Regions from separate parts of the Homo sapiens genome. Here region 2 is linked to region 1. The links come from fine-mapping of genetic effects on gene expression. Tissue or cell type: whole blood. Region 1 holds a variant in brackets; the other region holds the start of a gene. All regions are shown on one strand. Distances are between the middles of the regions.

Region 1 (8,183 bases):
GAATCGCTTGAACCCGGGAGATGGAGGTTGTGGTGAGCCGAGATCACGCCACTGCACTCCAGCCTGGGCAACAAGAGTGAAATTCTCAAAAAAAAAAAAAAAAAGACATAGGAAATGCCTTACTGTGAGGCTGTGTGCTCTCCGAAATGAACCTTCATCCAACGCCTAAGTGAAGGCAATTTCTTTACCTTATTTCACTGTAATGAGGAGACACTGCCACTGAAGGACAGAAGCAGTGGAGGGTAAATTGGACAAACAGCCTTTGTCTTCAGGTTCCCAGCTGTACAATGGGATGCATCTTTCCCATGTCTATGGGCCTTATGCATCTCCATCTGGATAATATGCTGATTAAGTTCAGTGATTGTGTCCTCTGTCCCCTGGAGCATCCCTCTGGCCCAGGGTAGGGCACACAGTAGGTTGCCAAGCCACACTGGCTATTTTTGGCTGGCTGCTTTCCTTTCAAGTGCTGTTAAAGGCCTGCGTTAAGCAAGTAAGATAATTTAAGCTCCCCAAACCTTCCCACTGGCCCACGTTGCAGGGCACCTGGAGAGACGATGTTCTCTGCTCTTCGTGGACATTTCTGGAGCTCCCCAGCCATGCACAAAGATTGGTAAACTTTAGAACACGAAAGAGTGCTATCCTTCATGCCTCCTGACAGCCTGTCTTTTATTGCTGATATCCACTAACTGGGCAGGTCTAATTTTAAAATGCTTTGGTAAACATTTCTAGGACTTCTTCGCATCGCGGGGGTGGGGAGGTCACAGAACAGGGTTGTTAGACTCAGCACTGTGGAAGAAACAAGGATGCCCTGCATGTCAAGTCCTTTTTTTTTTTTTTTTTTTTGAGACTGAGTCTCGCTCAGTCACCCAGGCTGGAGTGCAATGGCATGATCTCAGCTCACTGCAACCTCCCTCTCCAGCAATCAGACGATTCTCCCGCTTCAGCCTCCCCCGAGTAGCTGGGATTAGAGGCACCTGCCATCATGCCCAGATACTTTTTGTATTTTTGTAGAGACGGGGTTTCACCAGGTTGGGCAGGCTGGTCTCAAACTCCTGACCTCAGGTGATAGACCCGCCTCAGCCTCCCAAAGTGCTGGGATTACAGTCATGAGCCACCGCGCCCCGCCGTCATACACAATGTTTGCCCCCTAGCAGATAGTCAGGGATGAGCTCTTAAAAGAAGGGACCAAGGAATGAATGAATGAATCTCCATGCCAATCACAAAGAAGAGAAATCCGAGAGTGAGCCCTGGGAGTGTCTGACAACCAGGAGTATTTAGATCTAAGCCTTGAAAGAGTCTGCTTAGATTTTCTTGCTGAGGAAAGAGGAGGGGGCAAGGAGTAAAAGGAAAAACAACAAAACCCCAAAGCATCTTAAAGTAGTCAGAGTTACTGGGACAAGTTGCAGACTATTAATTGCAAGGGGAAAAAATCCTAACAGACAACTGGTTTACATGATCCCTACTTAGAAATATACCTTGGGGTTTGCAGAATGACCTTGGAATTATATTGTCACCAGTCTTTCCAAATACTGAGAAATGTGACTAAGTAACAAAAGTCATCAGCCTGGGAAACATGGTGAAAACCCCTCTCTACAAGAAATACAATAAATTAGCCGGATGTGGTGGTGCGTGCCTGTAGTCCCAGCTACTAGGGAGGCTGAGGCAGGAGGATGGCTTGAGCCTGGGAGGTTGAGGCTACAGTGAGCCGTGAAACCAAGAATTCTGATTCTACTTGTGTGAGTTTCGCTGTGTCTGTCTACCAGGTCATTTGCAGAGCACAGAGACCTCCTTCTCCCTGCTTTTTAATTTATTTTCTATAACACACAAATACACGATGTCCACAAAGAAGACAGGCAACCAATTTCTAACATCTGGATGAACCTGAGGAGAAATTCTGAGCAGATGGGTACTTGAGAATTGAGAGAGGCATGAAAGAATATTATTTCAAAGATTGAGAGGGAATTGGAACTGGATGACATTTTACAGATTTGCCCTTATTTTTTCCTAATTGAAGCATATCACTTCTGCTAGGGTCATATTTAGAAATTTTAAAATGAGTGAGTGTACTGAGTCTCCGAGGTTTCCTGACTCTCAGTTGGATTATGTTTTTTATTAGATTCCAGTGGTACTGGGTATGTTACGTTAATCCATATTTAAACTAGGTTGACCTTACACCCCAATTTGCCCTGGATGGTCCTGGGTTACACCTGTCGTCCCAACAGAATTATTAATAGCATCGTCCTCCACCGTCAATAGCATTCCGGTTTGGAATATTAAATTCTACAATCACTCCCACTTTGACTCCTAAAAGTTTTCCAGAATATGCCATACTTTCTCATTAATTGTTGCAACTTATGGCTATTTTATAGATTTCTGAGACCCATCCTGTTTTCTGTTGGATTTTAAGCATCCTTTGAACTTTAGAAGGCTCCTCACAGAACTGGAAAGCCATCCACACAAAGACAACTGTTGTTCATTAATAACACATGTTAGTTAATTAACGTGTTGCTAATTAATAATATTTATATTATTCAGGCTATATTCCTATTTATCAACGATATTAATTAAATTATGTATTAAGTATGCAATGAATGTCAATGGTTGAATAGCACATACCTTCATAGCCAAAGAGAAGTAATAACAAAAAGCCTTCTATCTTGCGTGACATCTTCCCCTCGTCCTCGGCCAAAGCTCTACCTTACTGAACTGGAGAGCTGGCCCAGGAGCAGGGGATTAAGTTGAGCCCTGGCCTCATTAAGCATCTTAATCCATTTAGTTCTTAGGTCTTTGGCTGAGCCCCATCAAGTTAACCCACAGAGTTACCTGCCTCAACAAGGAAGTCTCATGGAAGATACTAGCATCAACTGAGATTCAGTTCGCGAGGAAGATACTTTTCGTTCTTTTTTTTTTTTTTTTTTTTTTTTTTGAGATGGAGTTTCGCTCTTGTCACCCAGGCTGGAGTGCAATGGCGCCATCTCGGCTCACTGCAACCTCTGCCTCCCGGGTTCAATCTAGTCTCCTGCCTCAGCCTTCCGAGTAGCTGGGATTATAGGCTCACGCCACCACGCCCAGCTAATTTTTGTATTTTTAGTAGAGATGGGGTTTCGTCATGTCAGTCAGGCTGGTCTCGGACTCCTGACCTCAGGTGATCCACCCACCTCGGCCTCCCAAAGTGCTGGGATTACAGGCGTCAGCCACTGCGCCCGGCCCATACTGTTCATTCTATCTTAATGTAAGGGAAGCAATGGAGGGAGAGAACTACAACC[A/G]GAAGTCTCAGGTTTTCGTCCTTTCTTCGCCATCATTTTTTAGGGGGTGACCTTGAACAATTTCCTGCCACATAAGCACTAACATTCTCGAATTGTATGAAAATGTCATGGATTCCCCTCTTTGAAAGCAACTAGGCATCATGTGCACACCTATTCACTCAGGAAAATGCTAAATTTGGTGGTGGTGGGAGGACAGTTAACACAAAGCTGTGCATTGCTGTGTTACTTTTAACAACAACAAATTGGAAACAATCTAAATGGCCAAGGTTAGGGGGCTGGTTAAGTAAATCAAGAGATGAGTGCAGCCTGGTAGGTTTAAGAGCACAGACTGCCAACCCAGACTGGGTGCCAAATCGCAGCACTAGCACTTGTTACATTGTGACCTCAGGGCAAGTTATTAATATCTCTGCGCCTAAACTTTCTCATCTGTAAGATGATGATAATAATGCCTACTTTCGAGAGTTATTTTGAGGCTTACAAGAGATCATATGTATAAAATACTTAGCACAGTGCTAGACATAATTAGCTATTATTTTTACATCACCATTCAGAATAAAGTTGATGGGAGGAAAAGGGGAGTTGTTTAATAGGTATAGAGTTGAGTTTTGCAAGATGAAAAAGTTCCCGAGATCTGTTTCACAACAATGTGAATATACTTAACACTACTGAACTGTACACTTAAAAATGATTATGGTGGGCTGGAGGTGGTGGCTCACACCTGTAATCCCAGCACTTTGGGAGGCCAAGGCAGGCAGATCACTTGAGGTCAGGAGTTCGAGACCAGCCTGGGCAACATGGCGAAACCTCGTCTCTACCAAAAATACAAAAATTAGTCGGGCGTGGTGGCGTGCACCTATAATCTCAGCTACTCGGGAGGCTGAGGCAGGAGAATCGCTTGAACCCAGGAGGCCGAGGTTTCAGTGAGCCGAGATTGTACCACTGCACTCCAGCCTGGGTGACAGAGCCAGACTCTGTCTCAAAAAAAAAAAAAAATGGTTAAGGTGGTTTTAAAAAAGGCCGGGCACGGTGGCTCAAGCCTGTAATCCTAGCACTTTGGGAGGCCGAGGCGGGCGGATCACGAGGTCAGGAGATCGAGACCATCCTGGCTAACACGGTGAAACCCCGTCTCAACTAAAAATACAAAAAATTAGCCGGGCGAGGTGGCAGGCGCCTGTAGTCCCAGCTACTCGGGAGGCTGAGGCAGGAGAATGGTGTGAACCCGGGAGGCAGAGGTTGCAGTGAGCTGAGATCACGACACTGCACTCCAGCCTGGGCGACAGAGTGAGACTCCGCCTCCAAAAAAAAAAAAAAGAATAAAGTTGATGAAGTGATTGTAATAACAGGGAAAGAGTTACACTCAAGTTAGAAAAAGACGCAAATTTCTACACTGTTAAGGATGCATAACTAGGTTGAAAATGCAGAGAAAAATACTGAGTGCCCCTTCCCATTTTATATTTTTTGCTACCACCATCTCACCATGGCCCACACCCTCATTCCTCTTGTCAAAGATAAAAAAGCCAATATTTAAACAAATAATAAACTCCCCAAAGGAAACTGTAATGAAATAGTAAAGAGGAACAGAAAGAAACTAGAGAAACGTTTGCTCATTCAACCAGTATTTATTGAATGTCTACAAGCCTGACATTTATTTTATACTGTGTATGAACTCTATTCCACAAATTCTACTGCTGCATTAAAAGGGACTGTGGGGTTTTTTTTTTTTCGTGCTCTGCACATCAGAGTTTAATGAAAAATAGAACTTTTAATCAGAGTCATAATCATGACCGACCTTTAATAATTCACCTGCAGTCAAAGCGCTGCTGTATTGCCTGCCACATTTTAGTTGGAGGTTGGGTGGCCGGCCCTTGCTGGCTTGCAGGCAAAGGGCAGCCAGGTGCATTCCCCGAGCGCCCGATTTTCCGAGGCGTACTGGGAGGAGAGGTGGGGTAGGGCCCGGCCGGATCGGGGGCGCCGGATCGGGTCTAGGACTTCGCCCGGCCCCTGCCCTCCACTACTTCTCATGTCGGACTATGGCGGCAGTGACCTTGTGGGATAGGAGAGGGTATCTGTCATTTCACTTCTGCGAGAAAAACATGCCAAAAAATTAAAAAGAAAAAAAGGACAAAGAAAAACACTTCGTTGTCGCTTTTTGGTTTTTTTTGTTTGTTTAACCCAAACCCTTTTTTTTTTTTAACCCAAACAACGAAACCCTATAAAAGCAAAAACAGCCGCCTTACGGCTATGGTTCCACTGGGGCTCGAACCCAGGACCTTCTGCGTGTAAAGCAGACGTGATAACCACTACACTATGGAACCTCTACGAGGAAGAATATTGTTGGGACTTTATTCATAGACTCACAGCAGTTCCGGTCCCTCCGCCGGAGCCCCGCCTCTCCACCGTGACCCCGCCCCCGAGGCGAGGAGTTTGCGGCGGCTTCGAGTCTCGGGCTCCGGCGTTTGGGCGGCTTGTCTTCCCTGCCCGCCACAGTCGCGGCCCCTGGGACCAGGGCGAGGCCGGAACCCCGGCCGAGAGCACCTCCCTGCTATCATCTGTCCCCAAACTTTCCCTCAATCGAGGCGCCGGCGGGGCGGCCCGGCGGCCGGAAGTGCACCCTGCTCGGGCTTTGCGCCCCCGGCAGCTTCCTCCGCCCGCGAGGGCCCCGCGCCTTCCCATTTTCCCAACCGGCAAACTGAGCCTCGGCCACCCGGCCCACTTGCCGGTCGGAAGTCAGGACGTCGCCGCTTGCGGCGGCGTGGAAGGCTTCGCCTCCGGAGCAAGGAGGACGGGCCGCTGGTTAGCGGGCCCTTTGCCCGAGGGTGTGGACCTCTACCCGCTCCCCTGCCCCTTCCCGCAGCCTTCTTCCCCTCCCGAGGACAGGCCTAGGGGGTGCAAATGCCAGGGCTTCCGTTAGGTCTCCTTAGTCTAGGGCTGCAGGGGTTGGGGGACGAAGACGTGTAGACGGGGCCACCCGTCTATGGCTTCCAGGGTGGCAGCGGCCCTGGCCACGTGATTGAGGGGCCCAGTGCAAAATGAAGATGCCAGGCCCCTTGTTAAGTTTTTGAGAATTTCACACGGTAACAGCAGAGTATTCAACCTGGTGCGGGGTCCCTGACTTGCTTGCAGGACTGTAGTCTGGGTAACGGGCTGGGACCCTCCATCACAAAGGGTGATTCTTGTTTTTCATCGTCAGTGTCATTTGCCTTCTTCAGGGCTTCCAGGTGGATCTTCGTCACCACCCTAGGATTGCTCACCATTCTCAAGCTTGAAAACCCACCTGCAATCATTTGGGCGGGGGGGGGGGGGCATCTTTAAGCGCCCAGGTGAACTTGGTCTGCAGGCAGCAGCTGTCCTTTTCTCTGGATCTTCTGCTGAGGTCGGTAGGTTGATAAGTGATACTGATTTTGTGGCAGGAACTCCCTTCAGCCAACTCCTGTCTTCCTGGGAAGGCCTCTGGAAGAAACCAGGTGGGTGCAGGGAACACTAAGGTGGGGATCTGGATGTTCGTCTTGATTTGGCCATTCATGAGCTGGGTGCTCGAGCTAGTCAGTTCACCTCTGGTCTCAGTCTCCTCCTTTGTAAATACAAGGGTTGGACTAAACACGTCCCCTTTCACCTCTGGGTCTCAATGTTATGCCCATCTTCCACGTAGGAAAACGGAGGCAGTTATCTGCCATGTAATCCCCCCCACACACACACCCCCGCCCCCCGCCCAGAAGTAGAGGCAGGCCAGCTAGTGGCGTGGGTTTTTCTAGTACCCGTTTCCCGATGTCCTCAGTTAGCTCCCTGTCATATTCATCATGGGGCCCCCTTCTAGTCTGCTTTTTTGGTGAGACGTTTTCAGAGGCCTCTCGAGCGCTTGATGCCTAGATTGTGGGCCACGAGATGACCAGAGTGGCCAGCCACCGGCCGGAGGATACGTTCCTGAGAGCTCCACGTTTCCCACTAGTCAGTGAGCCTCAGGACTCCTGGGAAGCCTGATAATAAGTGTATCCCACCTGTTTCCAAACCCCTAGCGGTCGAAAACAAGACTGCCAGGAACTGGCCCTAAAGTTACACCCACTGGTTGTGTTTTGGATGGTGTCTCTAGGAAATGCTTTGCTCTCCAGCCCCCCACATCCCGATTTTTCTGTCTGCCCCTGGGTATAAAGGTATGTTTGCCAAGTTCCCACACTTAACCTCTGTGCAGAAAAGAAGCTGGTGTCCCTCTGTTGCATGCTTAACCTCTGTGCAGAAAAGAAGCTGGTGTCCCTCTGTTGCATGCGACACAGGTATCTGCCTTTGGTGAAAAACTCTTGTTCCTTTTCTCCATTCCAGGAGGGAAACTGTGTTCTGTTCTCCCCGCCGCCCCTCGCAAGGTGTCATCACAATCTTTTTTTTTTTTTTTTTTTTTAAGACGGAGTCTCGCTCTGTTGCCCAGGCCGGAGTGCAGTGGCACGATCTCAGCTCACTGCAACCTCTGCCTCCCGTTCGAGCAATTCTCCTGCCTCAGCCACCCAAGTAGCTGGGATTACAGGCGCCCCCCCACCATACCTGGCCTACTTTTTGTATTTTTAGTAGAAATGGGGTTTCACCATGTTGGCCAGGTTGATCTCAAACTCCTGGCCTCAAGTGATCCGCCCACCTCGGCCTCCTGAAGTGTTGGGATTGCAGGCGTAAGCCACCGCGCCCGGCCCCACCCAGCTCAAATTCTGTGGTCATTTTTATCACTTGCTTGTTTGCCCTTTCATTTCTTCCTTGTGCTTGTTGGTAAAACCACAATCTCTTACATCTGACTGTCTCCCTACCCTGCCCCTGAACATGGCCCAAGAAGAACACATCCAAGCTGACTGGTTTCACACTAAATTCATGACTGCTTAGCTCAAGTGAACCCTTTCTGCAGTCCAGAATACGTGTCCACTTCTAAGGACGGTTTCATGT
Region 2 (8,183 bases), 34 kb after region 1:
TTTCTAATGGATAATCAAAAAATTCTAGAACATCATGTCTTTCCATCATGATTTTAAAACTTTCTTTAAAAATTATGTATAAGTACTACCCCTTTCTGATTTAATAAAATGCTTTTGTATAATTGAATAGCACCTACCTGTGCACAAAATGATGGATTAATAATGACTTTTAGCAACTAAATTTTTAAAGAACTCTGGCCTAGGAATATTGATTCCTTTGTTCATTCATTCATTCATTTAGCATTATCCAACATCTGCAATGTGAAAGGCACCATGTAGGTGCCAGAGATTCAAGGGCTACTTTGGAAGTTGCCCGTGGGGCTAATAGTCTAACAGAAATATACTCAAGTTTGATGCTTTTTAGTTCTTACTGAATCTTTTATATGCAGTTGTGTTTGTTGTGGATTAACTGAGGGGTGACTGAAAACCAAATGCCTCTGGAGAGATATTGAGACAGTGCTTTTTTTTTTCTGGAAAAAGAAAATCGAAATTGAAATATGTCAATCAGTCCAATCAGTGTTTATGGCCTACTAAATGCTCAATTCTTTTTTTCCCCTGTTTTCTTTTTTAAATTAAAAAACATACCTTTTTTTTTTTTTTTTTTTAAAGTCAGGATTTCACTCTGTCACCCAGGCTGGAGTGCAGTGGTGTGATCACGGCTCGCTGCATCCTTGACCTCCCAGGCTCAGGTGATCCTCCCACCTCAGCCTCCTGAGGAGCTGGGACTACAGATGTGCACCACCATGCCTGGCTAATTTTTTGTATTTTTTGGTAGAGATGGGGTCTCCCTATGTTGCCCAGGCTGGTCTCGAACTCCTGGGCTCAAAGGATCCATCTGCCTCAGCCTCCCAAAGTGCTAGGATTACGAATGAGAGCCACTGTGCCCAGCCCCAATTCTTATGTCTTCATAAAAAGGGGTGGAAAAAATAGCATGAGGATGGAGCGAAGCCCAAGCGAGATTTGGATACTGTTGGAAAATAGTGTTTCTTCAACTGAGATATGGGGATTCCTTGCATCAAAGTTCTCGGCATGGTGCACTTTAAATGTGTATTCCAAGGCACTGGACTTTTGAATCTGAGTATTGTTAGTAAAGCCTGGGAATCTGCATCCCCCCACCCCCAATAAGTCTTGTGAGCACTCGAGTTGGAGAGCACTGATCTAGGCACCTGGAGAATGTCACCAGGACTAGATGAATTCCTAGATGAACAGTGCCCCAATTTCAAAAATGAGAAAAGAATATATGCTAGAAGCCACAGACTTGATATGACCTCTGGAAAAATTCAGCTTGAAATAGATGGAGCCAAAGCATTTCTAGGAAAATGTGATCATCACTATGCAGCACCGTGGGTTTTCTAAAATACCGTCTCTATTACAGATTGTCAAACTTTGTTGTGTATTAGAATCTGGAAAACTGAAAAAAATCTTGATGCCTCATCCTCCACCCAGTACCAATTATGTCAAATTATCTGGGGGTGGGACTTGGGCATCAGTATTTTTTAAACCCCAAGAGATTCTGACTTAATGAGGTGCAGGCTGAGTACTGGGAGTTTGAAAAGCTCCCCAGGTGACACTCATATGCAACGAAGTATGACAAGCACAGGTCTATATGACATGGGACAAGTTGCTTAACTTCCTTGCACTTTGTGTAAATACTAGGTAATTTTAAAGGTCTCTCTCACCTTTAAACTTCTATGATTTTGTATTAAAAATGTTGCCAAATTGATTTCCTTCCTTTCTTCCTCCCCTGCCCTTCCTTCCTTTTCTCCTCCTCCTTCCCTCTCTCTTCTTTTGCTGGAATAAGCTGGAATGTCAAAGTATCAAAATATATACATATCATCATTTTATTAAAATATTTAGTAAAATTCTCCAGGATGTCTCACAGATAAATGAGAGTTATGATAGGTGAGTTTACCAGCTAACTGAACAAATGTGCTCAGCGAGTATGAAGGTAACGGATCTGTGGTGAACCTGGAGGATGGTTTGGAGTGGGATGCCACAGGGCTCATCCTGCCCTTGGATCTGATCTTGTTAATGTTCTTTAGCCATGATGTAGATAAGGAAGACACGAAAGAAATGCCTATCGAATTTGGAAATAAAGCCAAGCACGGTGGCTGATGCCTGTCATCCCAGCACTTTGGGAGGCTGAGGTGGGCACGTTGCTTGAGGCCAGGAGTTTGAGACCAACTTGGGCAACATGGTGAGACCCCATGTCTACAAAAAAGTACAAAAATTAGCTGGGCATGGTGGCGCATGCCTGTAGTTCCAGCTGCTCAGGAGGCTGAGGTAGGAGAATCACTTGAGCCCGGGAGGTGGAGGCTGCAGTGAGTCATGGTTGCGCCACTGCACTCCAGCCTGGGTGACAGAGCGAGACCTTGTCTCAAAAAATAAATAAAAATTTGGAAGTAACCCAAAGTTTAGGAAGGCTAATTCATTCAATACATAAAATAATCAGGTTCACCTCTGGTCAGAAAATCTGTTTACTAAGCTTATTGTTATTTTCAAAACATGGCCATAGTTCAAATATTTTGCTTATTTTAGTTTTCCCTTTCTTCAGTCGAGTTGAAATTTTGAAGCTTTTGGTGTAGTACCAATGGAAAGATAGATATGTCAGTTGTTTGCTGACTTTGTGCCTGTCAAGAAATGCAAATAGGGCTGGGCAAGATGGCTCACACCTGTGATCCCAGCACTTTGGGAGGACAAGGTCGGAGGATCACTTGAGCCCAGGAGTTTGAGACCAGCCTCGGCAACATAGGGAGACCCTGTCTCTACAAAAAAATAAAATTAGCCGGGTGTCACGGCACATGCTTGGGAGGTTAAGGCTGCAGCGAGCCGTGATTGTGCCACTACACTCCATCCTGGGTGACAGAGTGAGACCCTGTCTGAAAAAAAAAAAAAAAAAAAAGGAATGCAAATATATTAGATCAGGTTGGTTTGGAGCATCACAAAATAAAGGAAACATCACCCTAAAAAGTGACGTGACAGTATACTATGGAAAGGAATTTTGTTGAAAACTCCCGTGAAGTGATTATGGGAGTCAGGGAGCTCATGAGAAGGACTATAGAACACAAAGTTAGACTCCAGAGGGGCCTCAGCAGTGCCCAGAGAGCTTGTTTAAAAGGGCACTCTTGGCCAGGCACGGTGGCTCACGCCTGTCATCCCAGCACTTTGGGAGGCCGAGGCAGGTGGATCACCTGAGGTCAGGAGTTCGAGACCATCCTGGCCAACACAGCAAAACCCCGTCTCTACTAAAAATACAAAAAATTAGCCAGGTGTGGTGGCGCATGCCTGTAGTCCCAGCTACTAGGGAGGCTGAGGCGGGAGGATCACCTGAGCCTGGGAGGTTGAGGCTGCAGTGAGCTGTGATCACACCACTGCACTCCAGCCTGGGTAATAGAGCGAGACTCCGTCTCAAAAAATAAAATAAATAAAAGGACACTCTCACAGATTACAATTCCTAAATTTGGGGGGAGGTTTCAAACCTCCTTTTTTTTTTTTTTTTTTTTTTTTTTTTGAGATGGAGTCTCGCTTTGTCGCCCAGGCTAGAGTACAGTGGTGCGATCTCAGCTCACTGCAACCTCCGCCTCCTGGGTTCAAGCGATTCTGCTGCCTCAGCCTCCTGAGTAGCTGGGATTACAGACATGTGCCACCATGCTTGGCTAATTTTTGTACTTTTAGTAGAGACGGGGTTTCACCATGTTGGCCAGGCTGGTCTCGAACTCCTGACCTCGTAATCCGCCCGCCTCGGCCTCCCAAAGTGCTGGGATTGCAGGCGTGAGCCACTGCGACCGGCTGCCTCCTTTTTTTTAAAACAAATGTTCCCAACTTATTCCGCGAAATACTGTCAAAGAACTCACTTTGAATTTCAGCATAGCTGTTAAATATGTTGTTTTTGTCTCATAGTCAACTTCCAATTTGTGTTTTTAAAAGCCTAGATAGGTTGAATTACTTTGAGCTGAAAACCAAAACAGTTAATTATGTCAGCTCCTCCACATCCCATTCCCCATATTTAAATTAGAAAATCGTACACTCTCATATTTCGATTTTTCTTTTCATTTTGAATGCTCTATTTTATACAGAGCTGGATGTGACCTAGACATGGAGAAACTCATTTATGTCTAGCAGAGAAGCAGCCTATAGCTGCTCTGTAGCTGCTGCTGTGTTTTGGAAAATAAGCCAGGATTAGATTATGTCTGATCACTTTCCACATCACATGATGAACAGCGATTCAGAAGAAGCGTAAAATGAATCCTGCTGAGCAGCCCCTCAGCTACCATGTGGTTAACTGGCGGTTTCCTTCCCTCCCTCCTGTGTATTCCTCATTAGAATCTATGACTGAAGAGGATCGGCTAAGAGTGGTTCCTCGCAGCTTAAAGGGAGGCACTTTTCACACTCTGTCTTAAAATCAGAAGTTGAATTCATGAACACATATGATTTAGATAGAAGTCATGGGATGCAGCAGTTCTTCAACGAAAACCAGGAGATCTGACACATGTGAGTACTGGGAATGTGCCTGTGGTTATGAATGAAAAGGGGAAAATGAGCTGCCCTCACCCTCTTCTCCTTTCTCATTTACTCCCACGATGCTCAAGCTGCCCTGTGTGATTTGCACAAGGCATCGTTAGAGTAGCATAGGAAACTACATTTAGGAAGATGTAGCTTTGAATTTATGAAGTACCATAAAGTATTGTCTTAGAGATATTTTGTGTTTGATTTAATTTCATTCGATAATGTACCAATATAAAATCTCAATTTAAAACTCAGTGGCAGGGAACAAGAAAGGCAGTGTAATTTATATGTGTTTCTTCAATACTTTTATAAATAGCTATATCCCTACTTTTGTGACATTTAGTAGCATCATTGAATTTTTATTGGATTTTATAACTCAATGATCACATTATTTCTATATCTATTCAACACAGAACTTCATGAGATTTGCATCACGTTTTAAAAATAATCTAGGAGAATTGGGAGAATGCTAGATCATCTGTTTCCAAAAAAAAGGTGTATTGTTTCTAAATAGATGGCATGCCTTTCTGTACCCCCATATAATTAGAAGCTTAAATATTCACTTTGTTTATTTTGTACTGAGGTTCTTTCTCATGGCTATTGGCATCTAGTTGAAACAAACTTGAGCATTTAAGGGATAGAGTTTCCAACAAGCAAATTAAAATAAAAACAAGTAAATAAGCTGGGACAATTAATATGAGTAATTTGCTCTTAAACTCCACTTCTTTGATGTCTAGGTTATAGGTAATTCCCCCAACTTCTATTCCACGTCTTGCCTTTGGAAGTTTATTCAGGCTTAAGGTGGAGGGTTTAGGATGCAGAGTGTGCTATACTAATTAGCGTGGGATGTTTTACTTTGGGAATCAAATGTTATTCTCCTACCCAGCTGACTTGTGCTGATGATGTAGGAAACTCATCTCTGAAAGTAGGAAGGGACATAGGAGGTGTACTGACTCTTTCAAATCTTTAAGCATGTCATGAAATAAATCTTTCAAAAGCTCCATCTGAACTCTACTGCTGTAGTAGACGTTTATTAGCAGAGAGTAAAGAGAAATTATCTTTTTATATCTAGGATTACTCACAGTTCTTTAAATTTAGCCAAATTTCCTAGGTTAAAAAAAAAAAAGCCAAGTCCAACTTGTAAAAACAAATCCTCTCTCTTTTTGAAATACTTTTCAACTTTTAAAACATTGCATGTAAGTGGAAATATTAGCTTAGATTTTTGGATTGCTTTTTCTTTCAAATACCTGTGATTTATTGAGGTGAAATTCACGTAACATAAAATTAGCCATTGTCAAGTGAACAACTCAGCAGCAGTTGGTATGTTCACAGTGTCGTGCAACCACAACCCCTATGTACTTCTGAGACATTTCCAACACTCCAAAGTAAAACCCCTTATCCATTAAGCACTTTCTCCTCTCAGCCCCTGGCAACCACAAATCTATATTCAGTCTCTATGGATTTATCTATTCTGGACATTTCATGTAAATGGAGTCATATATTATGTGACCTTTTGTGTCTGGCTTTGTCCATGTTGTAGCATGTATCAGTACTATATTCCTTTTTATTGTGGAATAATATTTCATTGTATGAATATGCCACATTGTATTTATCCATTCATCAATTGATAGACATTTGGATTGTTTCAGCTTTGTTTTTTGTTTTTTGTTTTTTTTGAGACAGTCTTGCTCTGTCACCCAGGCTGGAGTGCAGTGGGGCGATCTCGGCTCGCTGCAACCTCCGCCTCCCAGGTTCAAGCGATTCTCCTGCCTCAGCCTCTGGAGTAGCTGGGATTACAGGCACACACCACCACACCTAGCTAATTTTTGTATTTTTGGTAGAGACAGGGTTTCACCATGTTGGCCAGGCTGGTCTCGAACTCCTGACCTCAGGTGATCTGCCCGCCTCGGCCTCCCAAAGCGCTAGGATTACAGGCGTGAGCCACTGTGCCCGACCTGTTTCAGCTTTTTGACTGTTATGAACAATGCTGCTGTGAACATATGTTTTCCGTTCTCTTGGGTATATACCTAGAAGTGGAATTGCTGGGTCATACGGTAGCTTTATGTTTAACATTTTGAGAAATTTCCAAGCTGTTTTCCCAAGTGACTGCACCATTCTACATTCCTACCAGCAGTGTATAAAGGTTTCAATTTCTCCACATTTTCAGCGATAGTTGTTATTGTCTGTCCTTTTGATTTTAGTCATCCTAGTGGGTATGAAGTGGTATCACACCATGGTTTTCATTTGTATTTCAGTAGTGACTAATGACATTGAGCATCTTTTCATGTGTTTATTGGCTATTTGTATATCTGCTTTGGAGAAATGTCTATTCAGATCATTTACCCATTTTTAATTGAATTATTTATTTTTATATTGTTGTAAGATAAATTTATATATTCTAGATACAAGTTTCCTATCAAATATGTGACTTGCAAATATTTTCTCTCATTTGTTGAATTCTCTTCATCCTTTCTTAATGGTGTTCTTTGAAGCACAAAAGTTTTTACTTTTGATGAAGTTCACTTTATTTTTTCTTTGGTTGCTTGTGATTTTGGTGTCATATCTAAGAATCCATTCCCGAGTCCAAAAAGATTTTTGCTCACGTCTTACTTTAAGAGTTTTGTAACAACTCAACAAGAAAAAAAAGATAACTCCATTAAAAAGTGGGCAAAGGTCATGAACAGACATTTTTTCAAAAGAAGGCATACAAATGGCTAACAAACACACGAAAAAAATGCTCAACATCACTAATCATCAGGTAAATGCAAATTGAAACCATAATGAGATACCACCTTACATACCGGTCAGAATGGCTATTACTAAAAAGTCAAAAAATAAGAGATGTAGGCAAGGATGTAGGGAAAAGGGAATGTTTATCACTGCTGGTGGGAATGTAAATTAGTACAACCTCTGTGGAAAACATTATGGAGATTTCTCAAAGAACTAAAAATAGAGCTACCAAACTACCATTTCATCCAGCAATCCCACCACGGAGTCTACCCAAAGGAAGTCATTATATCAAATAGATATCTACACTCTTATGTTTACCGCAGCACTATTTACAATAGCAAAGATATGGAATCACCGTAAGTGTTTTTCAATGGATGATTGGGTAAAGAAAATGTGTGGTGTATGTATATGTAAGTGTGTGTGTGTGTATATATGTGTGTGTGTGTATGTGTGTGTATATATACGTATATATGTATGTATGTGTGTGCATATATATATGTATATATATGTGTGTGTGTGTGTATATATATATATATGCATGCCATGGAATACTACTCAGCCATAAAAAAGAATGAAATCATGTCTTTTGCAGCAACATGGATGGAACAAGAAGCCATTATCCTAAGTGAAATTACTCAAAAAACAGAAAGTCAAATACCCCATGTTCTCACTTAAAAGTGGGAGCTAAATAATGTATACATATGGGCATCCAGAATACAATAATAGACACTGGAGACTCAGAAAGCTGGGAGGGTGGGAGGGGGGTGAGGTATGAGAAATTACCTAATGAGTACAATGTATGCTACTTGGGTAATGGTTACGCTAAAAGCCCAGACTTCATTATACATGTAACAAAATTACACTTATACCCCCTAAATATATATGTTTTTAAAGGCCAAAAAAAGTTTTGTACTTTTAGCTCTTACTTTTAGGCATTTGAACCATTT

What was found. PIP is the estimated chance that this variant, and not a neighbour inherited with it, causes the effect.
Region 2: it holds the start of PPEF1, and the variant in region 1 is fine-mapped to the expression of PPEF1 in whole blood (TOPMed, PIP above 0.99).

The regions. Positions count from the first base shown.
Region 1 is chrX:18,669,401-18,677,583 of GRCh38, forward strand. It overlaps RS1 (retinoschisin 1), which reads right to left and starts at 2,708. Exons shown (of 6, transcript NM_000330.4): 1 at 2,617-2,708. The coding sequence starts at 2,668. TRV-TAC1-2 (tRNA-Val (anticodon TAC) 1-2) reads right to left here and starts at 5,581; the gene lies at 5,509-5,581. It also overlaps a transcript of PPEF1 not described here. RefSeq lists a silencer at 5,506-5,692. The variant A/G (reference allele first, on the strand shown) is at 3,267.
Region 2 is chrX:18,703,336-18,711,518 of GRCh38, forward strand. PPEF1 (protein phosphatase with EF-hand domain 1) reads left to right here and starts at 4,310. Exons shown (of 16, transcript NM_001377996.1): 1 at 4,310-4,491. The coding sequence starts at 4,446.